Homo sapiens: one gene and its partners. The protein of the gene in region 2 purifies or fractionates together with the protein of the main gene of each other region. This does not show direct contact. Each region holds a gene or a part of one and is shown on either strand. Other genes may lie near its edges. The genes, in order: CUL4B, COPS3, DDB2 and BTBD2.

Region 1 (7,024 bases), on a different chromosome or scaffold from region 2:
CCTGACAATGGGCTATTGGCCGACATATGTGCCTATGGAAGTTCATTTACCACCAGAGGTAAGAGTTACTGTTTAGAACTGAGTTATAGGCATAGAAATCATAGCATTTCCATTTTGCTTGTCATTTAAAAATAGATACTTAGAAAAAAATAGAGACCCAGGGTCTCGCTGTATTGCTCAGGCTGGTCTTGAACTCTTGGGCTCAAGTGATCCCCCCCGCCTCAGCCTTCCGAAGTGCTGGGATTACAGGTGTAAGTCACCAGGCTTGGCATGGATACTTTTAAAAGTGTATGTCAGTAAGCGCACCAACACCAAATACCAACTGCTTTAATGTTTTACTTTTGTACTTAGAAGTCCAGTTAAGCACATAGCTAATAATGCCAAATTTCTGGGTTCAGGGTCAATTTCCCTGGCTCTTCTTCCATCTTCCCAGGTTATACCCCTCACTCTACCTAGCTATTAAGAATTCTTGCACATATTTCACCCATAGGTGGGATTGCTAAATGATGGGTCCTTGATTAAATCTATCCTGACTCCTGGTAAACTGTCTAGTCCAGGACTGAAGCCCATAAAAGGGATTAAGGCTAGACAGATAGATATTGAGAATCCTCCATGGAGATGATTATGAAGGCCCAGGGAGTAGATTTCTCTCAAAGAGGAAGAAAAAACAGCAGAGGCAGAACTTTAGAAAAGGCTCACATTTGGCAGATGGTAGAAAGAGGAACCTGTGAAGGAAACCAATGCAGAAGCAACAGTGAAATAAAGGAAGCAGCATAGTGCAGAGGCACAAAAGCTGCTGCAGGTGAATGTTTCAAAAGAGGGGATGATTAAATGTTCAGAGAGAGCAAAAGGTATAAATCCTAATAAATCCCATTTGATTTGGTGGTTGGGAGATCATTGTTTTTCATCAAAGTGATTGGTGGACCTACTGGATATAGTCTTAAAATTTTCCAGAAACTATATCACATGAGGTAAGTATAAAAATGGTAAATGTGGTATTGGATACAGAGCTTAAATAAAGCCTTATTTTATTTACTTTAGATGGTAAAACTTCAGGAGATTTTCAAGACATTTTACCTAGGCAAACATAGTGGCAGGAAACTTCAGTGGCAGTCAACCCTAGGACACTGTGTGTTAAAAGCAGAATTTAAAGAGGTAAGTGGATGTTCCCAAAACTTTTAGTTTTCATCTTTATCTTTAATGTTTAGGTCATCCTTCTTAACTGAAAGTTTAGGCTATTGTTTTTTGTTTTCTTCTTTTTTTTTTTTTTTTTTTTTTTTGAGACAGAGTCTCACTCTGTCACCAGAGTGGAGTGCAGTGGCGCTATCTTGGCTCACCGCAACCTCTGCCTCCTGGGTTCAGGTGATTCTCCTGCCTCAGCCTCCCGAGTGGCTGGGACTACAGGCGTGCGCCACCATACCCAGCTAATTTTTTTTGTATTTTTAGTGGAGACGGGGTTTCACCATGTTGGCCAGGATGGTCTCTGTCTCTTGACCTTGTGATCCACGCGCCTCGGCCTCCTAAAGTGCTGGGATTACAGGTGTGAACCACCGCATCTGGCCAGTTTAAGCTGTTGTTTTATAATTGTATCCTAGATATCCGCATGATGACAGTGATAGTTTGTCATAGCTTTATGTATTTTTAAGTAATTTTAGGTGTGTGGTCTTTCCACGATTGATTTGGCCCTTCTGCAAAATGAAAAGCAGTGAACTTTCCCCCTACCCTTTCCTCACCTGTGGATGAAAACTGTACACTGCCACTTCCTATTTTTATTTATTTGTTTATTTTTAGAGATAGGGTCCCACTCTGTCACCCAGGCAGGAGTACAGTGGCACAATCATAGTTCACTGTAACCTCAAACTCATGGGCTCAAGCTATCCCCCTGCCTCCGCTTCCTAAAGTGCTGGGATTACAGGCATGAGCAACTACACTTAGTCTAACACTGCCACTTCTTGACAGAAATCTTGTTGCTGGGAGCTACGAATAGAGTGGGAGTTAAGGGAAACAGTGTGCAATATCTAATCTCAAAAAACTTTAGCTTTTCATGACTAATCTGAGCCAAACAAATCAAAAATACATTTGAAATAGTGATTTCTTGCTGCTTGTGATGAATATCTAGAATGACACATAAGGCTGATTAATTTTCATTACTGTATTCTATTTATAAGGCTTAAAAAAAAACTGTTAAAAGGTCAGCTAATCCTTCCCCCTATTTTAGGTAGGGTCACACCTAAACCTCACACTGAAATACTGTATTACCACGTCAAGTGGCTTTGCTGGATAATGCTAATCATGTTTCTAAATCCACTAATTGAAAAATGCTTTTCCTATAAGAGATGATTAATTTTTCATGTGTTTTTAAAAAAGTGATGACTAAACACTTTTATTTCTTCAACAGGGTAAAAAGGAACTCCAGGTCTCTCTTTTTCAAACACTGGTGCTGCTAATGTTTAATGAGGGAGAGGAGTTCAGTTTAGAAGAGATCAAGCAGGCAACTGGAATAGGTTTGTAGCAAACATTAATTGTTCACTATGTGCACACCACTATGTTAAGAGGTCTGGGGGACATATTTATAGGAATAATTCCTTGCCTCAGAACTGTTTTGAGTTTTTTTTTTCTTTTTTTTTAATGAGACAGGGTCTCACTCTGTCACCCAGGCTGGGGTCCAGTGGTACAATCATGGCTCAGGCTCAAGTGATTCTCCTGCCTCAGCCTGCCAAGCAGATGGGACTACAAGTGCATGCCACCGTGCCTGGCTAATTTTTAAAATTTTTTTTTGTAGAGACAGGGTCTCACTATGTTGCTTAGCCTGGTCTCAAACTCCTGGGCTCAAGGGGTCTTCCTGCCTCAGCCTCCCTAAGTACTGCAATTACAGGCATGAGCCCCTGCAGCCAGCCAGAACTCTTTTTTTTTCCCCTCAAGACGGAATCTTGCTCTGTCACCCAGGCTGGAGTGCAGTGGCGCGATCTCGGCTCACTGCAACCTCTGCCTCCTGTGTTCAAGCAATTCTCCTGCCTCTGCCTCCCGAGTAGCTGGGATTACAGGCGCCTGCCACCACACCTGGCTAATGTTTGTATTTTTAGTAGAGACGGGGTTTCACCATGTTGGCCAGGCTGGTCTCGAACTCCTGACCTCGTGATCCGCCTGCCTCGGCCTACCAAAGTGCTGGGATTACAGGTGTGAGCCACCGCGCCTGGCCAGAACTCTTTATATAACCATAGGGAAAGGGGGAAATGACACTTGAAATAATGTCAAAACCCATAAGTACTGGCTTGTGGTACTGACTATAAGTGTGGTAAGAGTGCAACAAAGCAAGAGATCACCGTGGACTGGCACAATTGGGAAAGCTGTCATGAAGCAAGTGGCATTTGAGCTGGGCCTTCAAGTTTTGGTCAGGGAGAAGGCATATACAGCAAGGGGAAATATTTTGAGATGAGGTTGGGAGGTAGGAATGGGCACAGTATAGGCCCATGAAGAGCTTAATTGTAGCATAGAATCATGAAGAATCATGAAGAGCTTAATTGTAACATAGAATAGTGAGTTAAAAAATTAGGTAAGATGAGTAGGGCCTGATTGTGGAGAACCTGATAAGTCTAGCAAATGAAACCTACACTGTAGTGTCTCAACTATGTGGCATGGTGGAAGTAATTATTTGGACCACTTACTGAAATCAATCTACAGGGCAACTGGAAGGATCAAGGGATTCCAGTTTAGATGCTATTGGGATGATTCAGGCATAAAGTAGAAGGGACTTAGACTAGAATGAGACCATGAAAATGGAGAAAACTCATCTCTGCGGAAGCAGCGGCTAGCTATTATGTTGAGGATGAAGGAGAAGGAAAAGTTAAAAGATGATTTTAGGGTTTCCCAACTGAGAAGGTTAGTGGTATCACCACTGACAATTGGAAAGAGGACACAGTTATATGGAGATGATGAATCAAATTTTGGACGTAACTACAGTTGATAGTAAAACAGCCAGGCGGAATTGCCCTTTAAACGTGCAACTGGAGAGAAGTGAAATGTCATTTTGGAATATTTGGTAGTTGCCCACATGGTATGATAATTGACGTCTTTAAAAGAGGACTAGGGGCCGGGCGTGGTGGCTCACATCTGTAATCCCAGCACTTTGGGAGGCCAAGGCGGGTGGATCACTTGAGCTCAGGAGTTTGAGACCAGCCTGGGCAACATGGTGAAACCCCGCCTCTATTTTTTTTAAAAAAGAAGAGGACTAGGAAAAAAGCCATTGGCTAGAACAAAGAAAAGTTGTTGGTGACCTTTGGGAAAAAATGAAATAGTTTTAATAGGGGGATGGAGTGGAAGCTAGATTGAGGTAGAATGTCGTAGTTGTTCATGCTGGTAACAAATAACTAAACCTCTGTTTCTTCTTCAGAGGATGGAGAGTTAAGGAGAACACTGCAGTCATTAGCCTGTGGCAAAGCTAGAGTTCTGGCGAAAAATCCAAAGGGCAAAGACATTGAAGATGGTGACAAGTTCATTTGTAATGATGATTTCAAACATAAACTTTTCAGGATAAAGATCAATCAAATCCAGATGAAAGAAACGGTATTTCTTTCACTTTCTCTTAGTCCTAACACACTGGAATTATACATGTTAATAATCAAAATATATAAAGATTTTTATACCTGTAATACTGCCAATACCATTAATATTTTTTGTGTCTATGTCCAGCTAAATATGTTTCCTGATTTGATTTTGGGTGTTTGGGAGAGTGGTTGTACAGGATTGAGATGATACTCAACATAGTTTCATATCTTACTTTGTTTATTTAGTATTCAATCTTTAGAATTTTTCCATGCCATTAAATAGCTTCGAAAAATGGCAGATGGCAGTGTAATATTTTTACATGGCTCTTATAGTTTGTTCAACCACTGTTCATTTTGGGGCAATTAAATTCATGACTTATTAGTATTATAAATAAGATTGCAAGAAACCTCTTTGAAACTAAATTTTAATCTCTGATATATGATAAATTTGTGGAAGTAGATTTTTTTGGGTTAAAGGGTATGAACATTTTAGGAGTCTTAGTACATAATGTCATATTGTGTTCCGGAAAGGCTGGACCAGTTTATACTCTGTCCAGCAGCATATGAGAGCCTGTCTTACTATGTCCCCCAGCACTAAAGATTATATTTTCTTTTGCCAACTTGCTTGGTGAAAAATCTGAATTGATTTATTCACTATTTATTTGATTAACAGTGAAGGTGGGCCAGGTACGGTGGTTCACACCTGTAATCCCAGTACCTTGGGAGGCCGAGGCGGGCAGATCACCTGAGGTCAGGAGTTCAAAACCAGCTTGGCCAACATGGCGATACCCTGTCTCTACTAAAAATACAAAAATCAGCTGGGCGTGGTGGTGCGTGCTTGTAGTCCCAGCTACTTGGGAGGCTGAGGCATGAGAATCACCTGAACCCGGGATGTGGAGGTTGCAGTGAGCTGAGATCGCGCCACTGCACTGCAGCCTGGGTGACAGTGAGACTCTGTTTAAAAAAAAGAAAAAAAAAACAAAAACAGGGAAGGTGAATATTTTGTTTGTTTTTGCCATTTGAATTTGTAAGAGACTTCCAACTGCAGCATCCTGAAACTGATGGTTTCAGTTCCAATAAGGTTTAATGCAATATTTGAAAAAAAAAAAATTTTTTTTTTGAGGTGGAGTCTCACTCTGTCACCCAGGCTGGAGTCAGTGGCACGATCTTGGCTCACTGCAGCCTCCGCCTTCCAGGTTCAAGCGATTATCCTGCCTCAGCCTCCTGAGTAGCTGGGACTACATGCGTGAGCGACCATGCCCGGCTAATTTTTGTATTTTAAGTAGAGATGGGTTTTCACCATATTGACCAGGCAGGTCTTGAACTCCTGACCTCATGATCCGCCCATCTCGGCCTCCCAAAGTGCTGGAATTATAGGTGTGAGCCACTGAGCCCGACTGAAAAAATTTTAATGTAGGACAGCGACCAGTATCTCCAAACAAGTTCCTGTCATTTTCACATACACATCAAAGACAGGATATTTTCTTAAAGGATTACCATGTCCTTACTTTTAAAACATTTATGCTGTACCAGGAAGAAACTGCTGCAAAAAGGCCAAACTGTTTTTTTGGTTTAATTACTAAAGATGAACATTTTTACTTTAGCATCAAGATTGGTAAACCGCCTCCTAAATACCTACATTTCTGTAAGTCTTGAAGGATTGTAAGCACTAATGGCATGCATGTCTGATTTATATATTACAAAATAAAAATTAATTTTCAAAGAGGTTGACTCTTAACTAGTTTGCTTAGCCAGTTAATACCATGCCTTGAGTCAGAGATCAGACAGAGTCACCTTATAGACAAGCTATTGTCATAGAGAAATCTGGTTAACAATCCATTGAAACTGATACACACATTTAGAAGATATATCAAAGACAGAGTAAAAAAACAAAATGGTAAATTCCACATCAGCTATCTCTACTTCTAGAAAAGCAATTCAAAGATGATGTTTTTCTATTAACTAATATTAGCATTACTTCATTGGTATAGGGCAATATAATCAGAACAGAAAGGAGTTATGTTTGTAGGATTTTTCTCTGTCAGCATCTATATTTATAAGACCCCATTTAGATAATTCAGTACCTTTAAAGCAATAACAATGTCATGTCCCTAAAATGCACAATTTATGTAAATAGTCAGGTTTTGCTTCTGGTATAATTCCTAGGTTTAAAACTTTTTTGTTAGGTTGAAGAACAAGCAAGCACTACAGAAAGAGTATTTCAAGACAGACAGTATCAAATTGATGCTGCAATTGTTCGAATTATGAAGATGAGAAAGACACTTAGCCACAATCTCCTTGTTTCAGAAGTGTACAACCAGTTGAAATTTCCAGTAAAGGTAGGTACTTCTGTGTTTTCCTATTGAGCGTGTTATAAATAAAAGAAAGTACATTAGATTTTCAGACACAAATCTTGCAAACATAAAGCGTCATGACCATTTAGAGAGAGAAAAGTTTTAATTTCCCATGTTGATGCATAT
Region 2 (7,024 bases):
CTCACCATGTTGCTCAGACTGGTCTCAAACTCCTGGCCTTAAGCAGTCCTCCTGCCTCAGCCTCCCAAAGTGCTTGGATTACGGGCATGAGCCACTGTCCTGGCCTAGTTCTTAATTCTAAAAAATACTGTTGCTCATTTAATTTTACAGAGTATTGGAGGCAGGATGGATTTCTTGCATACATTGTTTCTGTATTTTATCCCATGAACTATCAGGGTAATTTGATTCTTTTCTCCTTATTCTAGGTTTGTGAAGTTTTCTATGCCCAGTGTTCCTGACTTCGAAACGCTATTCTCACAGGTTCAGCTCTTCATCAGCACTTGTAATGGGGAGCACATTCGATATGCAACAGACACTTGTAAGCTAAATAACATTTTATTCTCCATTGAAAATATTTTGCCCTTGTGGTTATATTTATATTTTGAATATTTTGTTATTGTATCTAGTTGCTGGGCTTTGCCATCAGCTAACAAATGCACTTGTGGAAAGAAAACAGGTAAGAAATACTATTCAAGTATTCCTAGTTTTGTTATAATATGTAACTAGCTTACACAATGAATTACTTTATCAAGATTCCAGTTAGTACTGAGCATCCACCACCTAGATATCTGTGGTCACTTGAGAGCACTCACAGCCATTGCTGTAAGCTCAGGCAGTCCCCGCATCCCCTGAATGAGGTGGAGGCACGGGGTGGTTTGGCACCTCAGGGAGGCTGCTGCTGGAACTACCAAGTAGTTGGAATTACCAAGCCAGTACCCTTTATGTTGTAATATGCTGGGTTTTGTCTGTTACATTTTTTCTTTTAACTTTTAATTAGGACATTATTTTAGCCTTACAAAAAGCTTCAAAAATAATATAAAAAATTCTCATACATTTTACCTAGATTTTCCAAATGTTAACATTTTACCGCACTTATTCTTTTTTTTTTCTCTTCCTCTTTTATTCTGAGCCATTGTAGAGTAAGTTGCACATATGCTATTGCTGTTCTTTATCCCTAAATACTTCAGTGGGTAAAGCCTAAAAATTAGGACATTCTGTTACATAGTATAGTGTAATGGTCAGCATCCAGAAATGAACTCTTACTGTTTTTTTTTTTGGAGACAGAGTCTCGCTCTGATGCCTAGGCTGGAGTGCAGTGGCGCCATCTCTGGTCACTGCAACCTCCACCTCCCAGGTTCAAGCAATTCTTCTGCCTCAGCCTCCTGAGTAGCTGGGGACTACAGGTGCATGCTGCCACGCCCAGCTAATTTTTTGTATTTTAGTAGAGACGGGGTTTCACCATGTTGCCAGGCTGGTCTCGAACTCCTGAGCTCAGGCAATCCTCCCGCCTTGGCCTCCCAAAGTGCCAGGATTACAGGCGTGAGCCACCACGCCCGGCCCAGAAATGAACGTTAATATAATGCATCAACAAATTGACAGACCCCATTTAGATTTTCCCCCAGTGAAAAGGACTGTCTTTTGCTATAAAAGGACATTAGCTGTTTGGACAGTGTACTATATATTATATAGCAAAAGAAAACCGTGGACCATGGATTGCATTAGACTGCTTTGTTTCTTTAGTGTCCCTTAATCTGAACAGTTATTTCATTCTTTATCTTTTATAATACATAATTTATAATGTGGATTTTTAAAAAATTTATTTAGTTATTTATTTTTTTGAAATGGAGTCTCATTCTGTTGCCTAGGCTGGAGTGCAGTGGTGTGATCTCAGCTCACTGCAACCTCCACCTTCCAGCTTCAGGCGATTCTCGTGCCTCAGCCTCCTGAGTAGCTGGGACTACAGGCGCATGTCACCTTTCCCAGCTGATTTTTGTTTTGTTTTGTTTTTTGAGACAGAGTCTCGCTCTGTCACCCAGGCTGGAGTGCAATGGCGCAATCTCGGCTCACTGCAACTTCCGCCTCCTGGGTTCAAGCAGTTCTTCTGCCTCAGCCTCCCAAGTAGCTGGGATTACAGGTGCCTGACACCATGCCCGGCTAATTTTTGTATTTTTAGTAGAGACAGGGTTTCACCATGTTTGCCAGGCTGGTGTCAAACTCCTGACCACAGGCGATCCGCCTGCCTCGGCCTCCCAGTGATTTTTGTATTTTTAATAGAGGTGAGGTTTTGCCATGTTGGCCAGGCTAGCCTCTAGAACTCCTGACCTCTGGTGATCCGCCTGCTTCAGCCTCCCAAAGGGCTGAGATTACAGGTGTGAGCCACTTCACCCAGCCAGGTGTTTCTTTTTAATTTGAAAGTAAATTTAAGATTAGTGGTTTGAAAGAGGCTGAAAATAGAACCAGTTGTTATTTTGTAGTACTAAGTAACCATGTTTGAAAGAGATGGTTAAGAAAAATCATGAGTTTTTGAAAAAGCTGTAAGTTATTGAGCTATTTTTAGTCTCTTCACATATATATATATATATTTTTGTTGTTGTTGTTGTTGTTGTTGTTTTTTTGAGATGGGGTCTTGCTCTGTTGCCCAGGCTGGAGTGCAGTGGCGCGATCTCAGCTCACTGCAACCTCCGCCTCCCGGGTTCAAGCGATTCTCCTGCCTCAGCCTCCTGAGTAGCTGGGACCACAGGCACATCCCACCATGCCCGGCTAATTTTTGTATTTTTAGTAGACATGGGGTTTTGCCATGTTGGCCAGGATAATCTTGATCTCCTGACCTCATGATCCACCCATCTTGGCCTCCCAAAATGCTGGGATTACAGGTGTGAGCCACCGTGCCCAGCAATTTTGGAAGAGACTATATTTTAGTCTGCCAAAAACTGATTATGCCTTACTTGACACTTGGTCTTCTTATTTATAATCAGGGCAGGAAACAGTCCTTTTGAAATCTATGGTGTTAGTTTTGGTAGTAATTTACTACCAGGTAAGGGGTAGACTGCCCTATGGGAAAATGCCAACACCCTTAGCCACAAGTAATTTTCCTAAGCATAGGCTGTTGTCTCTTGTATAATAAGTGATTTGGAAAGTTTTCATTTGTTTAGATGTTAATATAATAAACTGTTGAGAAAGTAATACTGTTTTTGATTATTGATCTTCATTGTAAAAATAAAAGCTTTTTATGATTTAAAAAATGGTGCTGAGTTATCTAAAAATTCCAAGAAACAGCTTAAGAAAAGTTTTCTGACTTAAATGGGACAGAAATTTCCTGAAAGAGTATGGAAACCTCATATTGCTATTTAAAGGAACCTATCAATTAGTGTTATTTTTTATTTATAAGTGACAACATAAGATCCAATGTGCTGCCATCTTTGAGAACTTATCTGAAAGAGATGTCATTTCTGACAGCCCCTGCGAGGAATTGGCATCCTTAAGCAAGCCATAGACAAGATGCAGATGAATACAAACCAGCTGACCTCAATACATGCTGATCTCTGCCAGGTAAGCAACCAAAGTGTGTGATTCACACCAAGTCAGAGGTGTAGGTTGTTTATGGGCTTGCTCAACATTGGGTTTGATAAACACAGGCAAGTTGGCGATATTGTGATGTGTTATAGAAGTTGGAATATGTAGGTACATCTATTACATTCAGGCGGGTGCTGGATGCAAACTGTAGGATGGGGCTCAACTAGTAAGCTTGTCGAACAGATAGGGTAATTAATAGTTGTAACTTTTTTTTTTTTTTTTTTTGAGACAGTCTCACTTTGTCGCCCATGCTGGAGTGCAGTGGCACAATCTCAGCTCACTGCAACCTCTGCCTCCCGGGTTCAAGCAATTCTCCTGCCTCAGCCTCTCGCGTAGCTGAGACTACAAGCACCCACCACCAAGCCTAGCTAATTTTTGTATTTTTAGTAGAACAGGGTTTCACCATGTTGGCCAGGCTGGCGTTGAACTCCTGACCTCATGATCCACCCGCCTCAGCCTCCCAAAGTGCTAGGATTACAGGTGTGAGCCACCACACCCGGCCCTAGTTGTAACTTTTTTTTTTTTTTTTTTTTGAGACGGAGTCTTGCTCTGTCGCCCAGGCTGGCGCCATCTCAGCTCACTGCAAGCTCCGCCTCCCGGGTTCACGCCATTCTCCCGCCTCAGCCTCCCGAGTAGCTGGGACTACAGGCGCCCGCTATCACGCCTGGCTAATTTTTTTGTATTTTTAGTAGACACGGGGTTTTACTGTGTTAGCCAGAATGGTCTCAATCTCCTGACGTCGTGATCCGCTCGCCTCAGCCTCCCAAAGTGCTGGGATTACAGGCGTGAGCCACTGTGCCCGGCCTGTAACTTTTTTTAAAATCCCGAATCATTTTTTTAAAATTGTGGAGCCTGCCAGGTGCAGTGGTTCACGCCTGTAATCCCAACACTTTGGGAGGCTGAGGCGGGCGGATCACCTGAGGTCCGGAGTTCCAGACCAGCCTGACCAACATGGAGAAATCCCATCTCTACTAAAAAAAAATTGTGGAACCTGAGACTTAACATAGCTAACTTCTTACACCTTAAAATGTTATTCATTTATCTTTTTTTTTTTTATTTTTTGAGATGGAGTCTTGCTCTGTTGCCCAGGCTGGAGTGCAGTGGCATGATCTAGGCTCACTGCAAGCTCCGCCTCCCAGGTTCAAGCAATTCTCCTTCCTCAGCCTCCTGAGTAGCTGGGATTGTGGACGTGCACCACTACACCCGGCTAATTTTTGTATTTTTAGTAGAGATGGGGTTTCACCATTTTGGTCAGGCTGGTCTTGAACTCCTGACTTCAAGCGATCCGCCCACCTCAGCCTCCCAAAGTGCTGGGATTACAGGTGTGAACCACCGTGCCTGGCCTCATTTATTTATCTTATTTTGCGATGTTCAAAGTCCAGAAGGCAAAAGGGCAGGTATATAATGAAGTCTCCTTCCCATTCTGTTTGCTAGCCATCTATTTCTTCTCTACAAAGGAAACTATGTTAGTTATTTCTCGTGTATCCTTCCAAAAACTTTTTATGGACATAAAAGCAAATACGAATATATATTTTCTCATTTTTTACACAAATTGTAATAATCTATGCATACTCTTATGTAGCTTGCTTTTTGTATTTAACATATCTTGGAGATGATTCTGTAGCAGTACTCTACAGGTACGGAGTATTCTATAATATGAGTATGCGATGGTTTTAGAAGTCTGCATGGGATATTTACATTGTTTCCTTCAAGAATAACATGGTATGTGGATTATTTCAAACACATGTTCTAGTTTCATATGAAGATGTGCTTTTTAATGTTTTAAAAAAATTGTGATTGAGGTACAACATATAGACAGTAAAATACTAAAGTGTATAGCTCAGTGAGTTTGTACGCATGTCTACACTGCGTCTCCATTAGCTAGATAACTGTTCTAAGGGCTTGCTTTCTTGAGTTGCACAATTCCCTGTATTTACCTAAAGGATTAATTAAAGGAACCACTTCTACTTGTATCACACCATGCTGGTCTCTTTCTATTCCACTAGTTCAGTAAAGAAAGAGGACACACTCTTTTTCCCTCTAATCAGATGGGTAGGGATAGGTTAAGAGATAAGTGAGTCTTGTCTGTAGAGTTCTCTATTCTCAATCATCTATAGCATGCTTGGCCTTATAGCTGTTTAGCTTTTTATAAAGAAATGCTCCCCCAGGTGAGGTGGCTCACGCCTGTAATCCTAGCACATTCGGAGGCCAAGGTGGACGGATCACTTGAGGTCAGGAGTTCGAGACCAGCCTGGCTAATGTGGTGAAACCCTGTCTCTACTAAAAATACAAAAATTAGCTGGGTGTGGTGGTGCACGCCTGTAATCCCAGCTACTCGGGAGGCTAATGCAGGAGAATCACTTGAACCCGGGAGGTGGAGGTTGCAGTGAGCTGAGATGACGCCACTGCACTCCAGCCTGTGTGACAGAGTGAGACTCCATTTCAAAAAAAAAAAAAAAGGTAATGCTGTTTTTTTCTGAATGGCTAAGAAAATGGAGTACAGGTTGACTATTCCTAATCTGAAAATTTGAAACCCAATCCAAAAATTTGAAACCCAAAATGCTCCAAAATCTGAAATCTTTAGAATGCCAACTTGGCACTCAAAGTGCTCATTGGAGCAATTGGATTTCAGGTTTTCAGATTAGGGATGCTTAACTGGTATGTATTCTGCAAATATTCCAAAATTTGAAACACTTGTGGTCCTAAGCATTTCAGATAGCAGATACATGAAATGTGTTGACATTTAGATAATTTTAGTCAATAAAATGTAAAACACAATTACATTATTTGGAAATTTCTGGAATCAATGAATTTTCTCCTTCTGCTAATACCTGCCTAAGTAAAATTAAAGTGATGATTTAATATCAATTTGTTCACAGCTTTGTTTGCTAGCAAAATGCTTTAAGCCTGCCCTTCCATATCTTGACGTGGATATGATGGATATCTGTAAAGAGAATGGAGCCTATGATGCAAAACACTTTTTATGTTACTATTATTATGGAGGGATGATCTATACTGGGCTGAAGAACTTTGAAAGAGCTCTCTACTTTTATGAACAGGTAATCTCTCTAAAAATTAGCTGAGGTTGTTCTGAACTTGTGTGATCAAAAAAGTGCTCCCATAGGTTTGTGGCTAGAGTGGTCTGATCCCAGGGCCTCCGTTTCAGGTGTTGGTCCTTTCAGAGACTACTTCTCTGTGATCATGTAAATAGTGGTAACCTGATCCCTAAGTTGAGGAGCAGCGCCAGTGCATAGAAGAGCACTTGTCTGGGGGTTCTAATCTAGGCTTGCACTTATACCTTATCTGATTTGGAATAAGTTATGACATCTCTTGACCTTTATAGCTTCCTTTGCATATAAGGAAGAGATTGAACTGAGTGATCTTGGTTGTGTCTTATTCTAAAACCATGTGTGGTATTTTGTTAAGTTTTATTTAATCAGTGAAACATTCTCTTGATTCAAAATTTAAAGGGTAGAAAGGAGTACACAGTAAAAGTCCCTCCCACCCTTTCTGTGTCTGTGTAATGAAACATAGTACACAATTTGGTAGAATATTCTGGAGGTTTACTCAGACTCTGAAAAAGAGATACACAATATTGATTAATAAACCACTTTACTTAAGGTAAATTAGT
Region 3 (7,024 bases), on a different chromosome or scaffold from region 2:
TTCTATGCTGTAGCCACACCAGCTGTTTCTATTCCTGAAACCGGGTCTCTGTAATTGCTGTTCCCTTTGACTGGAGTGCTTTTCCCCCATGGTCTTCTCATGGCTGGCGTCTTCTCTGCAGGTCTTTGCTGATTCTACCTCTTCAAAGAGGCTTTCGCTGGTTGTCCTTACTCATAACGTAGATCCCACTCCTCCACCGTCATTCCCTGTATCATTACCCTGCTTCATGTTTCCCCCAAGTGTTGATGGGTGTCTGAGATCTGATGCTTATTTGTATGTTTGCCCACTGATGGCAGGGACCTTTCCTTTCTGGTTCACCATCCTATTCCCAGTGCCTGGAACAAAGTTTGGCCTAGAGTAGCTGCTTTATATTTGTTGAATGAGTGAGGGGCTTGAAGTGTAATTGAGCAGATGGGATGTATACATACGAGGTAATTAACAATACAGATGCCAAGTGCTACAGAATGTGAAAGAAGGAAGAACCCCTTGTGAATTGGAGTCAATAAAGAAGACTCCATGGATGAGCGAGGAGGAGCAGTATTAGATAAATGGAGAGAAAAGAAGGAAAGACATAGTGTGACTGGGTGAGGTTTGGCACAGAGTTCTTGGGAATGGTCTTTGTTGTGCTAGAGTTTATCATCCATTGCTGAGGGGTGAGTGTGTCGTCCCCTCTAGGACCTTTAGCCAGCCCAGCTGGTGGCTGACATTGGAGGGCTGTGCTGTGAAAAGTGACACTGGGTTTAGAGCAGGAGTCACAAACTTATAGGGCTCCAGAAGCCAGAGTGGAAAAAAAAAAAAAAAGAATGTATGGTGGTAGGGTCAGGGGTAAACTAGAGATGACTGTTGTGCAAAAATGTAGGTCTTTTGATATCAGATGTGATTTTTCTCAAACAAAGACACAAATCCTCATTTTTTAAATGTCATATATCTTGAGTTTTAAAAAAAATTGTAAAATACACGTAACATAAAATGTATCACCTTAACCATTTAAAAGTGTTTTTTTTTTGAGGCGGACTCTCGCTCTGTCACCCAGGCTGGAGTGCAGTGGCGCAATCTTGGCTCACTGCAAGCTCCGCCTCCCGGATTCATGCCATTCTCCTGCCTCAGCCTCCCCAGCAGCTGGGACTGCAGGTGCATGCTGCCACGCCTGGCTAATTTTTGTATTTTTAGTAGAGATGGGGTTTCACCGTGTTAGCCACGATGGTCTCTATCTCCTGACCTTGTGATCTGCCTGCCTCGGCCTCCCAAAGTGCTGGGATTACAGGCGTGAGCCACCGCCCCCAGCCAACTTTTTAAAAAATAATGATAAAATACATATAACATGAAATTTACTTTCGTAACCATTTTAAAGTGCACAGTTCAATGGCGTTGGGTAAATTGTGTAAGCAGTCTCCAGAACTTCATTATTTTTTTTTATTTTTATTTTTTGAGTCTCATTCTGTCACCCAGGCTGGAGTGCAGTGACACAACCATAGCTCACTGCAGCCTCCACCTTCCTGACTCAAGGAATCCTCCGGCTTCAGCCTCCCATGTATCAGGGACTACAGGTACGCACCACCATGCCTGGCTAATTTTTAGAGATGTGGTCTCTCTATATTGCCCAGGCTGGTCTCAAACTACTGGCCTCAAGCAATCCTTCTGTCTTGTCTTCCCAAATTGCTCGGGATTACAGGGCTGAGCCACTGTGCTGGGCCTCTAGAACGTCTTAATATTGGCACTGAATGAAACTAAACACACGTCTCAGCCGAATTCTGCTTCAGTCCACTATTTTTCTAGCTCTGGTTTAAAGGTAGACATGAGGGGGAACCCAGGAGGAGGTCTCTTTATTTATTTATTTGTTTATTTTTTTGAGATGGAGTCTCACTCCGCCGCCCAGGCTGGAGTGCAGTGGCGCAATCTCGGCTCACTGCAAGCTCCGCCTCCCAGGTTCACGCGATTCTCCTGCCTCAGCCTCCGAAGTAGCTGGGACTACTGGTGCCCGCCACCACACCCGGCTACTTTTTTTATATTTTTTAGTGGAGATGGGGTTTCACCGTGTTAGCCATGATGGTCTCGATCTCCTGACCTCGTGATCCGCCCGCCTCGACCTCCCAAAGTGCTGGGATTACAGGCGTGAGCCACTGCACCCAGCCAGCAGGAGGTCTCTTAAGTGGAGGGATTTGGAGAGCAGACCACCAGAAAAGGCCAGGTTAGACAGGTGTGGGAGACTGGAATTCAAAGTGTGAGATGGGTGTTCAAGGAACAAGTGCCAGAAGCCCCCAGAAAGGCAGTCAGAGGAGTGCCGCGGACAGAGTGGGGTAGGTTTCCTGCCCAGCTAAAGAGGCAGGTGACCGCTAATAAGGCAGCTTGAAGTTGAAGTCAGAACCCAGAGCTCAGACAGGAAGAAATTTGTTTTCTTGTTTTCTCCAGGAGTCTAGGACATGGGAATAGAGGAATTTAGCTTATGCCTGGAGATGGGAAGAAGCAGTGTAGGGTATTCTAGGGGAAGAGCTTCCTGACTAACAGGATAATGACAAGTGCTTTGAACTTGTGCCAGACTGAGATTGCTTTTTTTCTTTGTTGCATCACCTTATGACATGCGTGTAACCTTCTTTACAGTGTAAACTTTCTTTACACTGTAATGAAGATTGGTCTAGGCATTGAATTTTGTGGCTTGCATTTGCAGGGAGCTAGGTTGGAGCAGAGGAAGGGTATGGCAGTCTGGAAGAGACCTGTCTGGTTTTACTCCCAGATGCTGACAGCAGAATGCTGATTTGAGACCAGTTACTGGAGGAGCAACAGTGCCTCATTTTGTCACTTCTTTAGTCATCTGACCTTGGCTGTGACCTTTACATTCTTCAGGCCCTTGGCAAGGGAACATGTATTACAGTTTCACAATGAAGATAGCTTAATTTTATTCCTATTATAAAAACAATGTATGGGGCCAGGCGCAGTGGCCCACGCCTGTAATCCCAGCACTTTGGGAGGCCGAGGCGGGTGGATCACCTGAGGTCAGGAGTTCCGAGACCAGCCTGACCAACACATAGTGAAACCCTGTCTCTACTAAAAATACAAAAATTAGCCGGGAGTAGTGGTGCACGTCTGTAGTTCCAGCTACTCAGGAATCTGAGGCAGGAGAATCACTTGAACCTGGGAGGTGGAGGTTGCAGTGAGCTGAGATGGTGCCACTGCACTCCAGCCTGGGCGACACAGTGAGACTCCATCTCTCAAAAAACAAAACAGTGTATTCTTATCATAAAATACAGAGAAAAGTGTAAAAAATAAATTAAATATGATCCAAAATCCCCATTTTCAGCATCCCTCTGTGCATGTGTACACTATTTTTTTTTTTTTCCAAGTCTGAGTCTTGCTCTGTCGCTCAGGCTGGAGTGCAGTGGTGCGATCTCACCTCACTGCAACCTCCGCCTCCTGGGTTCAAGCTATTCTCCTTCCTCAGCCTCCCGAGTAGCTGGGATTACAGGCATGCACCACCACACCAGCTAATTTTTGTTTTGTTTTGTTTTTTTAAGACAGAGTTTCACTCTATTGCCCAGGCTGGAGTGCAGTAGCACGATCTCGGCCCACTGCAACCTCTGCCTCCTGAGTTGAAATGATTCTCCTGCCTCAGCCTCCTGAGTAGCTGGGATTACAGGAGCCTACCACCATGCCCAGCTAATTTTTGTATTTTTAGTAGAGACGGGGTTTCACCGTGTTGGCCAGGCTCGTCTTGAACTCCTGGCCTAAGGTGATCCACCTGCCTTGGCCTCCCAAAGTGCTGGCATTACAGGTGTGAGCCACCGTGCCCAGCCTGAATTTTATATTTTTGGTAGAAACAGGGTTTCACCATATTGGCCAGGCTGGTCTCGAACTCCTGACCTCAAGTGATCCGCCCGCCTCGGCCTCCCAAAATGCTGGGATTACAGGCACGAGCCACTGCACCCGGCCTGGGTTTTTAAAATTATATCTTTATTGAGGTATAGTGGACATAAACTGCAGCTATTTCAAGTGTACAATTTGGCTATTCTCAGCCTATGGGGTAGTCCTACTCCAGAGAAGCAGTAAGAAAAAAAGAATAAATTGTACAATTCCATGAGTTTTGACATATGTGTACAACTGTGAAGCCATCACCACAATTAAAATAACTCCCATTTCCCCACCCTTTGTTGAATATTTGGAGAGTGATAGATAGATGAGTTATCTATGCCCCTTTGTAATCCACCCCTCTCTACCCAATATCTTATTCACTGTAAACTGCTGATCTATTTTTTATTTTTAGAAATTAATTTACATTTTCTAGAACTATATATAAATAGAATCATAGAATATATGGTCTTTTATTTTTGTTCTAGCTTGTTTCAGTATAATTATTTGAAATTTATCTACATTTTTATGTGTAGTTTTTTTTTTCTTTCTGAATAATGGTTCATTGTTTTTTGTTTTAAGACAGGGTCTTGCTGTGTCACCCAGGGATGATCATGGTTCAGCATAGCCTCAACCTCCTCAGCTCAAGCGATTCTCCCACCTCAGCCTCCTGAGTAGCTGGCACTACATGCACAGGCCACCATACCTGGCTAATTTTAAAATTTTGTTATAGAGACAGAGGTCTCACTGTGTTGCACAGGCTGGTTTCAAACTCCTGGCCTCAAGCTATCCTCCTGCCTTAGCCTCCCAAAGTGCCGGGATTATAGGCGTGAGCCCCTGCACCCAGCCACATTGTACTGATATGATACAGTTTATTCATTTACCTGTTCAAGGACATTTGAATTTTTTTCTAGTTTTTGAATGCAACATATAAAGCGACTGTGAACATTCACGTACAAGTATTTGTGTGGATATATGTTTTCATTTTTCTTGGGTAAATACTTAGCAGTGGAATGGCTGGATTATAGAGTAGGAATGTTTTAAAGATACTTTTTAAATGAGAAAAGGTTTTTCTATTTGCCCACATATTGTCATTTCCAGTGCTTTCATTCTTTCATGTGATCCAGATTTCCTTTTGGTAATATTTTCTTTCTGCCTGAAGAAATTCCTTTCATATTTCTTATAATGCAGATTGGTGATAAATACTTTCCACTGTTGTTTATCTAGAAAAGTATTTTGCCTTTATTTTGAGGGAGGATGTTTTTGCTAAGTATAGAATTCTAGGTTCACAGTTTTTAAAATTATTTAACTTTTATTTTTTAATTGGTAAATTAAAATTGTATTTTATTGCATACAATATATTTGTTCACAGTTTTCTCCTGTCAGTACTTTAAAGATGATGTCTAGGCTGGGCGCTGTGGCTTACGCCTGTAATCCCAGCATTTTGGGGGGCCAAGGCAAGTGGATCATTTGCGATCATGAGTTTTAGACCAGCCTGGCTAACATGGTGAAACCCCGCCTCTACTAAAAATACAAAAATTAGCTGGGTGTGGTGGCGCTCACCAGTAATCCCAGCTACCCGGGAGGCTGAGGCATGAGAATCTTGAACCTGGGAGGCAGAGGTTGCAGTGAGCCGAGATGGTGTCACTGCACTCCATTCTGGGTGACAGAGCAAGACTGTGTCTCAAAAATAAATAAATAAGGCTGGGCGCGGTGGCTGACACCTGTAATCCCAGCGCTTTGGGAGGCCGAGGCAGGCGGATCACGAGATCAAGAGATTGAGACCACCCTGGCTAACACGGTGAAACCCTGTCTGTTCTAAAAATACAAAAAAAATTAGCCAGGCGTGGTGGTGGGCGCCTGTAGTCCCAGCTACTTGGGAGGCTGAGGCAGGAGAATGGTGTGAACCCAGGAGGCAGAGCTGGCAGTGAGCCGAGATCGGCCACTTCACTCCAGCCTGGGTGACAGAGCAAGACTCCGTCTAAAATAAATAAATAAATAAAGAATAAAAATAAAGATGATTTCTAGTTGGGCTCAATGGTTCATGCCTGTAATCTCAACACTTTGAGAGGCTGAGGCTGGGGGACCTCTTGAGGCCAGGACTTTAAGACCAGCCTAGGAAACACAGCAAGACCCCATCTCTACAAAAAAATCTTAAAAATTAGCTAGTGGCTTGAACTTGTAGTTCCAGCTGTTCAGGAGGCTGAGGTGGGAGAATTGCTTAAGCCCAGGGGGACAAGGCTTCAGTGAGCTAGGCAAGCCTGGGTGACAGAGCAAGATCCTGTCTCAATTAAAAACAAAACAAAACAAAACATCCTGATGAGAAGTCTGCTACTATCCTTATGTTCCTGTCTATGTAATTTTTCTTCTGGTCGCTTTAAAAATGATTATGATGTGCTTGTGGGGGGATCACTAAGCTTCTTTGATTTATGGATTTTTTTTTTCTTTTGAGACAAAGTCTCACTCTGTCGCCCAGGCTGGTGTGCAGTGCCACAATCTCGGCTCACTGCAACCTCCACCTCCAGGGTTCAAGCGATTCTCCCTGCCTCAGCCTCCCGAGTAGCTGGGATTACAGGTGCCCACCACCTCACCTGGCTAATTTTTGTATTTATTTATTTTTATTTTATTTTTTTAGTAGAGACAGGGTTTCACCATGTTGGCCAGGCTGGTCTTGAACTCCTGACCTCCAGTGATCCGCCCACCTTGGCCTCCTGAAGTGCTGGGATTACAGGCGTGAGCCACCTTGCCCAGCCCATTATTTCTTACAAAGAGTTCAAAATGAAGAAAAAGAACAGTTCTTTTTTTCTTGGGACTGCGATTACATATGGTCCTGCAGGTGGTTGATGCACTGTTCATTTTTGTCTTTTTCCCTGTTTCATTTTGTGCAGTTGTTCACTGATCTTTACTTCTGTAATATCTAACCTTCTGCTGTCAATCCCTCCCTCCCTCCCTCCCTTCGTTCCTTTCTCTCTCTTCTCTTCCTCTTCCTTTTCTCTTCTCTTTCTTGCCTGTGCAGAGCAGGGCTGCTCCATAGGCAAAGTAGCCCAGCGTATTTTTCATTTCAGATACTGTATATCCCCTCTAGAAGTTTAATTTGGATTTTTTTTCATGTCTTCCATTTCTCTCCTCATATTTATTATTTCCTCTTCTTTCTTTTTTGAGATGAGGTCTCACTCTCTCTTCC
Region 4 (7,717 bases), on a different chromosome or scaffold from region 2:
TCTCCTGAGCCCCCCGGGGGCAGACCCCTCACCTACTTTTCTCCAAGGGGTCCTTGTCCTGCCTCCATCTTCCCCACTTTGCAACCGAGCCAGCGGTCCCTCAAGTGCAATCGCATACATGTCCCAAGGTCAGCCGGTGCCCGGGGCGCCCCACCTCCCCCCTCAAACAGAAAGCCTGGGATTCTCCAGCTGCACCTGCTGCTGGGTGAGTTCCAGCTGCATCCAACCTACCCCCTCCCCAAAGAGCACAAAGACCACCCAGGTGGAGGGAGCAAACCCACCGCCCCTCACTCCAAGCTAGGAGAGGCCCAGCAGCTAAGGACGACAGAGACAGGGACGGCGACACGGACGGCACAAGCCGTAGGAGGCCCCGGAACCCTCCAGGGGCAGGAACCTCTGCTAAGTACCGCCCAGGGCAGGACCCCACGAAAGGAGACCCAGCTGCCCATAAACACCCAGGAAGAAGCCAGAACACGTTAACAAAAGCACCCGAAGGTCAGAAGGGAGGGCAGGACCCTCCCCCTCCAGTGCCCGCAGCAAGAAAACCCAGCCCCTGCCCCCGACCAATGAGGGGCAGGGTAAGAGGGACCGGGGAGTGGAGGGAACCTGGGGCCTGGGGCCGGTACCCCGCACACTGGCAAAGACAGATACTGGGCCAAACCCACTTCTTTCCCAGAAAGGAGGGCTGGGGGCTGGGGAGGGAGGGACCCCGGAGCTGGGGGTCTCTGGGTTGGAAGGGCCCGGAGATGGGAGTCTGGGCAGGGGTCTAGGGTGGTGGCCTGGTGGCAGGGGATCATAGGATGGGGTGCAGGGGGTAGCAGGGCCCAGGGGAGACAACCTTCTGCAGAGTCCAGGGTCCAGAGCCTGGCAGTGGCGGAGCTGGAGGTGGGTGGTCACTGAAGTGGGAGGTGGCAGGGCCCAGGGGTCTCTGGCTGAGGTGGGGGTCCGGGGCTGGAGGGGCTGTGGATGGTAGTCTATGATCTGGACTGCAGGGCGGGCAGGGGGTATCCCTGGAGGGGAGCAGCATGGTTTGAAGGTCTCTGATCCAGATCATGTGCTGAGCCTGGGGGTCTCCGGTGGGGGTCACTGGGTCTGGAGGCAGCAGGGAGGACGCAGGGAGCAAGGCCTAGGGGTCTTGGCGCACAGGGGTGCGGGTGGGAGTGGCAGGGTCCCTGGATGGTGGGGGAAGAGGGAGGGGTCTTGTGGTCATGGGTGGGGGTGGAGGAAATAGCACGACCCCTGAAGGGAGGGGTCCTGGAGTTCAGGAGTCATAGGTTGGGGGTTACGGACTGAGGTGGTGAGGACTGGGGACGGGGGGTCTCAGGTGAGAGCGGAGAAGTCTCTCCATCCTGGGATGCAGGGGTGACACACTTGAGTGTAGTGGGGTCCCAGGGGGCCCCGGGAGTAGAGAGTGGAAGGGCAGTGGGCAGGGGTGAAGGACCTGGGGAAGGAGGGGTCCTGGAGAGTCCCTGGGTACAGGGACGGAGGGGTCACCAGTAGGGGTCCCAGGGGGAGAGGGGCGGCAGGCAAGGGTGCAGGGCCTGGGGATGGAGGGGTCCTGAGGATCCCCGGGTATAGGGATGGAGGGGTGTGGCATGTGGGGTCATGGGTCCTAGAAACAGTGGGTTGGGGTCCTGGGAATGGAGGAGCAGATAGGGGTACACGTCCCAGGGTTGGAGGGTCACAGGAGTCCCAGGGGTGGTGGGTGGGGGTGCAGGGCCAGGGCATGGAGGGGACCCAGGGATGCAGGCCAGGTGGGGTCCAGGGATGGAGGGGCCTGGGGTGTAGGCAGGGGTTCCAGCCGGAGGTGGAGGGGCCCAGGGATCTGGGGGCAGAGGTGTCTGGGGACCTGGGGTGCAGGGAGGGGTGAGGTCCAGGGATGGAGCGTCCTGGGGATGGAAGAATGGAGGGTCCTAGGGTGCAGGCGGGGGGTGGAGGGCCCTGAGGATGGGGTATTCAGGGTTCTGGGGTGCGGGCTGGGTGGGGTTTGAGGATGGAGGGGCCCAGGGGCTCCAAGTGCAGGCCGAGTTGGAGGGTCCCAGGAACGGAGGGTACCGGAGTGCAGGCTGGGTGGGTCCAGGGACGGAGGAGAGCAGGGGTCCCAGGGGTACAGGGCCTGGGATCCCGGGGAACAGGCTGGGGGCGCAAGCCAGAGGTGGAGGATCCAGGGGGGCCTGGGGATGGAGGGGTGCAGAGGCCCAGAGTGCAGGCCTGGTGGGGTCTGGGGACAGAGAGGTGCAGAGGCAGGGACAGAGGGGTGCAGAGCCCAGGGAACTGGGTGGAGTCTAGGGATGGAAGGGTGCAGGCCCCGGGGTGCAGGCCGGGTCGGTTTCAGGACCGGAGGGGTGCAGGGGTCCCAGGGACAGAGGGGTGCAGGGCCTCAGGTGCAGGCCCCGGGGTGCAGGCCGAGTTGGGTTCGGAGCCTGAGGATGCAGGGGTGCAGGGGTCCCGGGGACAGAGGGGTGCAGGGCTCGGGGATGGAGGGGTGCGGGGGTCTCGGGGACAGAGGGGTGCAGGGCCTCAGGTGCAGGGCCCGGGCAGCAGGCTGGGTGGGTCGGGGCCAGGGCTGGCGGGGTCGGGGCGCCCACCTGTGCGCGGGGATGCGCTGCGAGCTGAGCCCCTTGCCCACCAGGAAGTGCACGTCGCACAGCACCTCGTTGTTGAAGAGGAAGGCGAAGCGCTCCTGCACGGTGGGCTTGCTGGCCTGCCAGTTGTACGCGGCCTCGCGCTGCAGCGCCGCCGCCCCCGGGCCCGCCGCCTCCTCCGCCCGCTCCGCGCCCGCGGCCTGCGCGTCTGTCCCGGGGCCCGGCGGGGCGGGCGGCGTCGGCCCAGGGGCGGCGGCGGCGGCGGCGGCGGCGGCGGCGGCGGCGGCCGCGTTGCCGGGGGCCGGGGTGGCGGCGGCGTTGGCGCTGGGCCCGGGACTGCCCCCCGTGCCCGGGCCGACCCCGACCCCCGGCGGGCACGACGCACGCCCGCCGCTCCCACCCGCCGCCATTTTGTGGCTGCGGCGTGGGCGGGGGAGGGGAGGAGGGAAGGAGGGAGGGGAGGAGGGAAGGAGGGAGGGGAAAGGAGGAGAGTAGGGGGAGGAGGGGGAGGAGGGAGGGGAGGGGAAAAGAGGAGGGAGGGGAAAGGAGGGGAGGAGGGAGGGGAGGGGAAGCGGGAAGGAGGGAGGGGAGGAGAGGGAGGGGAAAGGAGGGGGAAGGAGGGAGGGGAGGAGAGGGAGGGGAAAGGAGGGGGAAGGAGGGAGGGGAGGAGAGGGAGGGGAAAGGAGGGGGAAGGAGGGAGGGGAGGAGAGGGAGGGGAAAGGAGGGGGAAGGAGGGAGGGGAGGAGAGGGAGGGGAAAGGAGGGGAGGTGGGAGGGGAGGAGGGAGGGGAGAAGGGAGGTGAATGGGGGAGGCTGTTGCAGGGGAGGGGACGGGGAGGAGAGGGAAGAGTAGGAGGGGCCTGTAGAGGGGAGGAGCTGGTGGAAGACCTCTTGCTCCACTCCCTAAGCATCCTGACCTGAAGCCCAGACTCCAGACCGAGGTCCAGAATTTGGGGTCCAGGCACCAGGCCCCAGACTCCAGACCGGGAATCCTAAACCCTGGAGCACAGACCTCAGTCCGGGATCCCAGGCCTCAGACCTTGAATCCTAGATCCCAGACTCTGAACCCCAGACTTCAGACTCCGGATTCCAGATCCCATACCTCAGACCCGGAACCCCCAACCCAAAGACCAAGCGCAAACTCCAGACCCCAGACCCCGGACCCAGGTGGCGGGCCTGCTCCGTGGCGCAGGCTCCGCTGTACAGAGACATAGCCTGAGGCCGGGAAGCTGCGGATGAGCGAGCAGGATGCAGGCCACGTGCACTGACACTCAGCAGACGCCCAGCACCCTCTCCAGGCCAGGTGTGGGGGGTGGTCAGTGTGGACGGAGCTGGGACTCCCCCAAAACGCTTACTACATACATAATGTCAAGGTAGACAAATGCCACAAAGATTGAGGAACCAGGTCGGGCGCAGTGGCTCACGCCTGTAATCCCAGCACTTCAGGAGGCCAAGGCGGGGGGTGCATCACCTAAGGTCAAGAGTTGGAGACCAGCCTGGGCAACATGGCAAAACCCTGTCTCTACAAAAAATACAAAAATTAGCCAGGCGCGGTGGCTCACGTCTGTAATCCCAGCACTTTGGGAGGCCGAGGCGGGCGGATCACCAGGTCGGGAGATCGAGACCATCCTGGTGAAACCCCATCATGGTGAAACCCCATCTCTACTAAAAATACGAAAATTAGCCAGGCTTGGTGGCGGGTGCCTGTAATCCCAGCTACTCGGGAGGCTGAGGCAGGAGAATCACTTGAACCTGGGAGGCGGAGGTTGCAGTGAGCCGAGACCGCGCCATTGCACTCCAGCCTGAACAACAAGAACAAAACTCCGTCTCAAACAAACAAACAAACAAACAAAACAAAACAAAAAAAAAACTAGGCGTGGTGGTACGCACCTGTTGTCCCAGCTACTCAGAAGGCTGAGACGGAAGCATCACTTGAGCCTGGAAGGTTGAGCTTTTGATGAGCTATGACTCCACCACTGCCCTCCAGCCTGGGCAACAGAGCAAGATCCTGTCTCGAAAAAAAAAAAAAACAAAGAAGAAAAAGAAAATAGGGTATTAAAAAAACCCAAGTGATAATGCTATTTTCAGTTCTCCAGAGTGGGTGGTTGAGGTAGTTACAATTTTTTTTTCTTTTTTCTTTTTTCTTTTTAGAGTCTCCCTCTATTGCCCAGGCTGGGGTGCAGTGATGGCGATCTTGGCTCACTGCAATCTCAGCCTCCTGGTTCAAGCAATTCTCCCGCCTCAGCCTCCTGAGTAGCTGGGGTTACAGGTACCCGCCACCACGCCTGGCTAAGGCTAATTTTTTTTTGTTTGTTTGTTTTGTTTTTGAGACAGTCTCGTTCTGTCGCCCAGGCTGGAGTGCAGTGGCGCGATCTTGGCTCACTGTAAGCTCCGCCTCCCAGATTCACGCCATTCTCCTGCCTCAGCCTCCCGAGTAGCTGGAACTACAGGCGCCTGCCACCATGCCTGGCTAATTTTATATGTGTGTGTGTGTATGTATATACATATATATATATATATATATATTTTTTTTTTTTTTTTTTTTTTTTTTTGAGACAGTCTTGCTCTGTCGCCCAGGCTGGAGTGCAGTGGCACGATCTCAGCTCACCACAACCTCCGCCTCCCGGATTCAAGCGATTCTCCTGCCTCAGCCTCCTGAGTAGCTGGGATTACATGCACCACCACGCCCGGCTAATTTTGTATTTTTAGTAGAGACGGGGTTTCTCCATGTTGGTCAGGCTGGTCTCGAACTCCCGACCTCAGGTGATCCGCCTGCCTTGGCCTCCCCAAGTGCTGGGATTACAGGCGGGAGCCATCACAGCCGGCCTCTAAATGTCAACTTTCTTATCTCTCATCTCATACATTTGCAAAGTGACATCTTTCCAGCCAAATCCTAAAGAGGACATCTGTGCAGTCCCTTCTAGATGAAGGTGCAGAACAGGCATACCTGCCATGGTGACAGAAATTAACAAAATGGTAGGTTGTCTGAGGAAAGGGTGAACTTTACGGAATGCTGAGATGTTCACGATTTTTTTTTTTTTTTTTTTTTTTTTTTTTTTTGAGATGGAGTCTCGTTCTGCCACCCAGGCCAGAGTGCAGTGGTGCAATCTCGGCTCACTGTAAGCTCTGCCTTCCAGGTTCATGCCATTCTCCTGCCTCAGCCCCCCGAGTAGCTGGGACTACAGGCGCCTGCCACCATGCCCGGCTAATTTTTTTTTTTTTTTTGTATTTTTAGTAGAGTCGGGGTTTCATCGTGTTAGCCAGGATGGTCTCTATCTCCTGACCTCGTGATCCGCCCACCTCGGCCTCCTAAAGTGCTGGGATTACAGATGTGAGCCACCGCGCCTGGACTTTTTTTTTTTTAAAGAGCTGTAGGCCAGCCATGGTAGCTCACGCCTGTAATCCCAGCACTTTCGGAGGCCGAGGCAGGCAGATTACTTGAGTTCAGGAGTTCGAGACCAGCCTGGCCAACATAGTGAAACCCTGTCTCCACAAAAAAATACAAAATTAACAAGGTGTTCTGGTGTGTGCCGGTAGTCCCAGCTTTTGGGAGGCTGAAGTGGGAGGATGGCTACAGCTGGGGAGGCTGAGATTGTGCCACTGCACTCCAGCCTGGGCGACAAAGTGAGGCCCTGCCTAACACACACGCACGCGTGCGCGCACACACAGGCACACACACACACGGGATCTCACTTTGTCGCCCAGGCTGCTCATGAACTCCTAGGCTCAAGCAATCTTCTCGCTAGGCCTCCCAAAACGCTGGGATTACAGGTGTGAACCACTCGGCCATGTGGAGATTTTTTTTTTTTTTTTTTTTTTCTTGAGACAGAGTCTTGCTCTGTCGCCCAAGCTGGAGTGCAGTGGCGCGATCTCGGCTCACTGCAAGCTCTGCCTCCCGGGTTAACACCATTCTTCTGCCTCAGCCTCCCAAGTAGCTGGGACTACAGGCGCCTGCCACCACGCCCGGCTAATTTTTTTGTATTTTTAGTAGAGACGGAGTTTCACCGTGTTAGCCAGGATGGTCTCGATCTCCTGACCTCCTGATCTGCCCATCTTGGCCTCCCAAAATACTGGGATTACAGGCGGGAGCCACCGCACCCGGCCCATGTGATTTTGAGAGGGGTGTGAGTGATACAGGTTCATGCATTTGCCTAAATTAACCAAACTACGCTTAAGATTTGTGCATTCGCTGTAAGTAAACCATACCTCTCACTAGACCTAAACATATTACGGATGGAGATTATCTATGAAGGCAGAAACATGAGTCCACCTCAGCCCTAGGGCTGGCAAGGGAAGCTTGCGGAGCCTTTTTGTCCTTTGTCAGTGCTTTTTTTTTTTTTTTTTTTTTTTTTTTTTTTTTTGCTGGCTATTGAGCCAACACCTGCCCCTGGCAGTGCGTTTTGAGCGTTTTTGAGTTTTCCCCGGGTTTCTGGAACCAATCCCAGCCCTGTCTATGCGGTGATGGCGTCTAGAGGGCGCTCGTCACCAAGCTGATTGCTGGATTTCCATTCATTTCCAGAGAAGTGTGCAGTTCACATAATAGAACCATCCTTGGCCAGGAGGGTGGGATGTCATTTCTTCCCTCCCACGGTCCCCTTTCCTCTTCTCTGACTCCAGGACACTCAGGCTGGCTGGCTTTCTTTCTTTGGCTGGCTTGCTTTCTTTCTTGTTCCTTTCTTTCTTTCTTTTTTCCTTCCTTCCTTCCTTCCTTCCTTCTTTTTTCTGCAAAGTCTCGCTCTATCTTCCAGGGCTGGACTGCAATGGTGCGGTCACAGCTCACTGCAGCCTCCACCTCCTGGGCTCAAGTGATCCTCCCGCCTCAGCCTCCTGAGTAGCTGGGACCACAGGCGCGCACCACCATGACTAATTTTTTTTTTTTTAAAGAGTCTCTCGCGGCCAGGCGTGGTGGCTCACACCTGTAATCCTAGCACTTTGAGAGGCTGAAGCAGGAGAATCGCTTGAACCCGGGAGACGGTGTTCAAGACCATCCTGGCTAACACGGTGAAACCCCGTCTCTACTAAAAATACAAAATATTAGCCGGGCGTGGTGGTGGGCGCCTGTAGTCCCAGCTACTCGGGAGGCTGAGGCAGGAGAATATCAAGAACTCAGGAGGCGGAGCTTGCAGTGAGCTG

Evidence for each region.
Region 1: the proteins of COPS3 (region 2) and CUL4B purify together in Homo sapiens (affinity purification with mass spectrometry; 13 studies listed by BioGRID and IntAct, with this or other methods). This does not show direct contact.
Region 3: the proteins of COPS3 (region 2) and DDB2 purify together in Homo sapiens (affinity purification with mass spectrometry; 7 studies listed by BioGRID and IntAct, with this or other methods). This does not show direct contact.
Region 4: the proteins of COPS3 (region 2) and BTBD2 purify together in Homo sapiens (affinity purification with mass spectrometry; 5 studies listed by BioGRID and IntAct, with this or other methods). This does not show direct contact.

Annotation. Positions count from the first base shown.
Region 1 is NC_000023.11:120,529,961-120,536,984, reverse strand, and holds part of CUL4B (cullin-4B), read left to right. Parts: coding exon 1-58; intron 59-1,041; coding exon 1,042-1,155; intron 1,156-2,398; coding exon 2,399-2,504; intron 2,505-4,390; coding exon 4,391-4,563; intron 4,564-6,730; coding exon 6,731-6,883; intron 6,884-7,024.
Region 2 is NC_000017.11:17,264,230-17,271,253, reverse strand, and holds part of COPS3 (COP9 signalosome complex subunit 3), read left to right. Parts: intron 1-245; coding exon 246-358; intron 359-446; coding exon 447-496; intron 497-3,208; exon of another isoform or gene 3,209-3,276; coding exon 3,277-3,369; intron 3,370-6,272; coding exon 6,273-6,452; intron 6,453-7,024. UniProt on the Homo sapiens protein: Component of the COP9 signalosome complex (CSN), a complex involved in various cellular and developmental processes.
Region 3 is NC_000011.10:47,217,957-47,224,980, forward strand, and holds part of DDB2 (DNA damage-binding protein 2), read left to right. Parts: intron 1-7,024.
Region 4 is NC_000019.10:2,012,709-2,020,425, forward strand, and holds the start of BTBD2 (BTB/POZ domain-containing protein 2), read right to left. Parts: upstream 3,007-7,717; 5' UTR 2,996-3,006; coding exon 2,589-2,995; intron 1,011-2,588; exon of another isoform or gene 839-1,010; intron 1-838.